Linked DNA regions of Homo sapiens. The protein of the gene in region 1 purifies or fractionates together with the protein of each later gene. This does not show direct contact. Each region holds a gene or a part of one and is shown in the gene's direction. Other genes may lie near its edges.

Evidence for each region.
Region 2: the proteins of CMTR2 (region 1) and PARVA fractionate together in Homo sapiens (co-fractionation; one large-scale study listed by BioGRID). This does not show direct contact.

The regions. Positions count from the first base shown.
Region 1 is NC_000016.10:71,283,648-71,286,402, reverse strand, and holds part of CMTR2 (cap-specific mRNA (nucleoside-2'-O-)-methyltransferase 2), read left to right. Parts: intron 1-463; 5' UTR 464-482; coding exon 483-2,755.
Region 2 is NC_000011.10:12,380,571-12,384,070, forward strand, and holds part of PARVA (alpha-parvin), read left to right. Parts: intron 1-3,500. UniProt on the Homo sapiens protein: Plays a role in sarcomere organization and in smooth muscle cell contraction. Required for normal development of the embryonic cardiovascular system, and for normal septation of the heart outflow tract.

The DNA.
Region 1 (2,755 bases):
GATGAATCTCTAAGGATGGATTTGTTTGAGGTCATGTAGGTGTTGTCACAGTCATTGGTAGGGAAGAACTTTGGGGAAGAGTTAGATGGGTTACTATGATAATCAGAGCTGTCATTCACTGATGATTATGCTTTGTTATATGTTTTTTATATGCTAGTATGTTTTATCTTCTTCTTAAAAAATGATAGGCTTTTTTTTTTAATGAGAAGAAACCAAATCCAAGAGATGGAATTTGCCCAAGGGTGCTTATTAAGCCATAATTAGCAGAGCTGGAATTTGAACCCAGGTCTTGGATATCAAAGCCTTTTTCATTATTCCAGATTACTTGGTTAAATAACAGAGTATGCTGACTTTAGCCTTCCCATTTTATGGAGTTTGTCATGAGTGTGATCGTATTTGCTGCTCATGAGATTTCGCTCACTAATAAATTTGATTCATTTAATTATGTGTTTTCTCTTCCTAGATTTTAATTTGATTTGAAAATGAGTAAGTGCAGAAAGACACCAGTTCAGCAGCTAGCAAGTCCCGCGTCATTCAGCCCAGATATTCTTGCTGACATTTTTGAACTCTTTGCCAAGAACTTTTCTTATGGCAAGCCACTTAATAATGAGTGGCAGTTACCAGATCCCAGTGAGATTTTCACCTGTGACCACACTGAACTTAATGCATTTCTTGATTTGAAGAACTCCCTAAATGAAGTAAAAAACCTACTGAGTGATAAGAAACTGGATGAGTGGCATGAGCACACTGCTTTCACTAATAAAGCGGGGAAAATCATTTCTCATGTTAGAAAATCTGTGAATGCTGAACTTTGTACTCAAGCATGGTGTAAGTTCCATGAGATTTTGTGCAGCTTTCCACTTATTCCACAGGAAGCTTTTCAGAATGGAAAACTGAATTCTCTACACCTTTGTGAAGCTCCAGGAGCTTTTATAGCTAGTCTCAACCACTACTTAAAATCCCATCGGTTTCCTTGTCATTGGAGTTGGGTAGCGAATACTCTGAATCCATACCATGAAGCAAATGACGACCTCATGATGATTATGGATGACCGGCTTATTGCAAATACCTTGCACTGGTGGTACTTTGGTCCAGATAACACTGGTGATATCATGACCCTGAAATTCTTGACTGGACTTCAGAATTTCATAAGCAGCATGGCTACTGTTCACTTGGTCACTGCAGATGGGAGTTTTGATTGCCAAGGAAACCCAGGTGAACAAGAAGCTTTAGTTTCTTCTTTGCATTACTGTGAAGTTGTCACTGCTCTGACCACTCTTGGAAACGGTGGCTCTTTTGTTCTAAAGATGTTTACTATGTTTGAACATTGTTCCATAAACTTGATGTACCTGCTAAACTGTTGTTTTGACCAAGTCCATGTTTTCAAACCTGCTACTAGCAAGGCAGGAAACTCCGAAGTCTATGTGGTTTGCCTCCACTATAAGGGGAGAGAGGCCATCCATCCTCTGTTATCTAAGATGACCTTGAATTTTGGGACTGAAATGAAAAGGAAAGCCCTTTTTCCCCATCATGTGATTCCTGATTCTTTTCTTAAGAGACATGAAGAATGTTGTGTGTTCTTTCATAAATATCAGCTAGAGACTATTTCTGAAAACATTCGTCTATTTGAGTGCATGGGAAAGGCGGAACAAGAAAAGCTGAATAATTTAAGGGATTGTGCTATACAATATTTTATGCAAAAATTTCAACTGAAACATCTTTCCAGAAATAATTGGCTAGTAAAAAAATCTAGTATTGGTTGTAGTACAAATACAAAATGGTTTGGGCAGAGGAACAAATATTTTAAAACTTATAATGAAAGGAAGATGCTAGAAGCCCTTTCATGGAAAGATAAAGTAGCCAAAGGATACTTTAATAGTTGGGCTGAAGAACATGGTGTATATCATCCTGGGCAGAGTTCTATTTTAGAAGGAACAGCTTCCAATCTTGAGTGTCACTTATGGCATATTTTGGAGGGAAAGAAACTGCCAAAGGTAAAATGTTCTCCTTTTTGCAATGGTGAAATTTTAAAAACTCTTAATGAAGCAATTGAAAAGTCATTAGGAGGAGCTTTTAATTTGGATTCCAAGTTTAGGCCAAAACAGCAGTATTCTTGTTCTTGTCATGTTTTTTCTGAAGAACTGATATTTTCCGAGTTGTGTAGCCTTACTGAGTGCCTTCAGGATGAGCAGGTTGTAGTACCCAGCAATCAAATAAAGTGCCTGCTGGTGGGCTTTTCGACTCTCCGTAATATCAAAATGCATATACCGTTGGAAGTTCGACTCCTAGAATCAGCTGAACTCACAACTTTTAGCTGTTCATTGCTTCATGATGGAGATCCAACTTACCAGCGTTTATTTTTGGACTGCCTTCTACATTCATTGCGGGAGCTTCATACAGGAGATGTTATGATTTTGCCTGTACTTTCTTGCTTCACAAGATTTATGGCTGGTTTGATCTTTGTACTCCACAGTTGTTTTAGATTCATCACTTTTGTTTGTCCCACATCCTCTGATCCCCTGAGGACCTGCGCAGTCCTGCTATGTGTTGGTTATCAGGACCTTCCAAATCCAGTTTTCCGATATTTGCAGAGTGTGAATGAATTGTTGAGCACTTTGCTCAACTCTGACTCACCCCAGCAGGTTTTACAGTTTGTGCCAATGGAGGTACTCCTTAAGGGGGCCCTGCTTGATTTTTTGTGGGATTTGAATGCTGCCATTGCTAAAAGGCATTTGCATTTCATTATTCAAAGAGA
Region 2 (3,500 bases), on another chromosome or scaffold:
TAGGGGCAGCGTCCATAGGGCACAGAGCAGTGCAGAGAATAGATCACAGTGGGGACGGTGGAAATGGAGAATACCTAGCAGATCAACCTGTTACCAGACCCGCTCGAAGTGAGCTCTCCAGAAGTCACCATAGTACAGTTGTAGTGCAAGCCAGCCACCCCAGATTAGGACTGTCATCTCCCTTATTCTAGCACAGACACAATGTTCTTTTAATGCAGCTAAGGTTGCCTCTAACTATTCTGCCAGCCACGTCGCACTGTGATCTCTCATTGAGCTTGCTATCAGCTTACTCAAAGACATTTTTATATTTGTTGCTCCTAAATCACAGCCTTCCCTATCTTGGATTTACTCAGTTGGGTTTTTGAAACCAAGTGTAAGATCTTATTTTCATCCCTGTTATATTTCACTGTAAAGTCCTGATTCCTTCATTCAGTCTGTCAACTAATCCAGGGGCTGTAAATGGATGAATGGAAGAACACAGAACGTCTTCTGAAGGGCCAGCCACCACCCAGCTCCAGCTGCTTGCTGCGGCATATGGTATTTCTGCAAGCCCAGGCAAAGAAGGCAGTGGGTTGGTTTGAAATGACTGTCCTTAGTGAGTATGTGCTGGATCTCAATGATCAGTGCTGAAGTGATGGTTAGTAGGTGTGGGGCCCCATTAACCATCACTTCAGTAATAATAAGGCCGGATCTTGCTCTGCATCCTGGATAAGCTCACAGCTTTGTGCTCTGTAGAATCTGCCTTCTTCAACTTTCTCTTTGGTGTTCTTGAACCTCTCATTCTTCATTCCTCAAGATCACTGCCATCAGTCTGTCCACAGATTATCTCAGTGCTTTGGTGTAGCATTCTCCGAGGCCCAAGGACTCCCATTCATTCATTTGGTACCTGCTATGTCCCACTGTAGGACACAACAAATGGAAAGATATAATACTTGTTAGAATATAGTTGACCCTTGAACTATGTGGGGGTTATGGACATTGACCCCCTGTACAGTCAAAAATCTGTGTATAGTTTTTAACTCCCCACAAACTTAACTGCTAATAGCCTACCGTTGACCAGAAGCCTTACTGATAATGGTCAATCAACACATATTTTGTATTGTATACTGTATACTTAACAATAAACAAACTGGAGAAAAGAAAATGTTATAAAGAAAATCATAAGGAAGAGAAAATACGTTTGCAAAACTGTGCTGCATTACTGATACTGTAAGTTTACATTGTCTGACTGAAATGGTAGGTAACCACAGCTGCACACCTCAACCTATGGTACACATCAAGCAATTCAACTTTTCTTATAATGTCATGACTTTTCTCTGATACTTGGGAGTACTTCCAGCATCTCTAGTGGCACTTTGTTAGAGTCCCATGGTGTTAGTCAAGGTTTATGGTATTTCACTAAGCATGAAAAATATGCGAGAACCTCAAGAGATCACTTTTAACTGCGGTACACAATTTACTGGAGAGATGAACTGTTCACGTGGAGATGATTAGCGTCACAAGGTGTTTTAAGCAGATACTTGCAGCGCTTGAGCTCACCACAATAGCAACAGGAGGTAGCTGTGAAATTATTACAGTGGTACAGTATGTACTACAGTTCATTTCGTGCAGTGAGGATTTAATCTTTACGTTTACATTTCTCTCATCTGCAGATGGCATCACGCACAGTTCTTGTGTGTATGTGTACATTTTGACATTTCGATAAGTTCTAACTGTTTGTAATAGATTTGTTTATATTTTATGGTAGTAAATGAGAAGGCAGACAAGTATTGATGTATATTTTATGCATTTGTGACATGAGTAACTTTTTCTTTTTTTTTTTTTTTAATATTTCTAGGCTACATGGTTCATCTCAAGGTTTTTCTAATTGTCACAGATCTCCAAAAATATTTTCCCATATAGTTATTGAAAAAATTTGCATATAAGTGGACCCTCGCAGTTCAAACCTGTGTTGTTCAAGGATCAACTCTATTTAGGTTAATAATTTCATGTAAAAAATGTCCTCCTAAGGAAAACTACATCATAGAATGACTATGAGTCTCATAAGAATGCACTCAACTAGTCATCACTCCTGTGTTTTCATAAGAAAAAACAGTGTTAGAGTCCAAGAGAGAACAAGGGTTAAAAGCATGGTCTTTAGGATTAGACACATTTCAATTGGATTTCTGGTTCAACCCCTTATTCATTCTATGACTTAAGACAAGTTACTTAACCCCTGTAAGCCTCTGTGTCTTCATCTATAAAATGAGAATAAGAATTCCTTCTTTACATGGAAGTTGTGAGGTTTAAATGAGATCGAGAATGTAAAATGCATTGCATGGCACAAGTAATGGTAGCTATTAAAATTGACAACTCAATTTTCATTGGTCTTTGAAATTTGAAATAGTCTTTTTATTATGGACTGCACTGGCTTTTTCAGGTTCTGTAAATAGCCTAGTAGCCCATGACTATATGCCTGTGGGACACTATTTTGTCCCTTTAGGAGTTAAGGGATCTTTCTTTGCAAGTGAGATCCTCCCTTTTCCCAAGATGACACATTTCAGCACTTTATCTGGGCCCCTTCTTATGAGTTGTAGCTTAAGTGGCTTTTGTTTTTCTCTGTTGATCTTTTTCTTCTTCTTTTGGGTTTTCAATTCCATTTCTGTTGGACATGGCCCTCCTGTGTGGATTCTTTCACTGCCCTTTCAGAGTCTACTTGCCAGAGGGCCACTTTTCAACTTTCTTTCTCTGAAACTGTCCTCAAGACGTGCTCTTTCAAGCAACACTAACTTGAATTGTACCTCTCTGCTGAAGGCACCCGAATTAGGCCAGCAGCACTGGTCATTCCTGTCGTTTACCCATTCATTTAAGTTTTTATCCCCCAGAGTTTTACATTTTGATCAGGACCTGAGGTATCCAATGAAGGCTTTAATTTCATAATTCTTCTAATAATACTAGTTCTTACCACTTGATTCTCATTGGCTGCCCAGTGTTGCTGGAGAAAAATCCACAAACCTTGCAACAAATTTATGGTTTCTAGAGTGAGTAGAACCCTTAGCACTGCAGAGCTACCCTTTTCTTCTAATCAGCCGGTGCATTCTCATTTTTCCAAAGTACATCTTTTTCTGTAGAGACACAGTCTTGCTATGTTGCCCTGGTCGGTCTCAAACTCCTGGGCATATCTAACTTTTTCTTAATTTTTTTTGATATTTCTAGATCACAAAATTCATCTGCAATTTTTTCAAATTGTTGCAATTCTCAAAAAAGTTTCTAATACATTTATTTTAAAAATTTGCATATAAGTGGACTCTTGAAATTCAAACCTGCATTGTTCAAGGGGCACGCCTTGAACAATGGCACCCATGTTGTTGTCCATAGCCCCTAAAACCCTTCCCTGGATTTTCAGATAGAAAATTGAGACCAGCTATGAGCTCCTTCAAGTTCCCTTTCTACCATATCTGGCCAGTCCCACCCATATGTGCAACTGTCTTTGTGCTCCCCACCTGCCCTAGTCCCTTCCA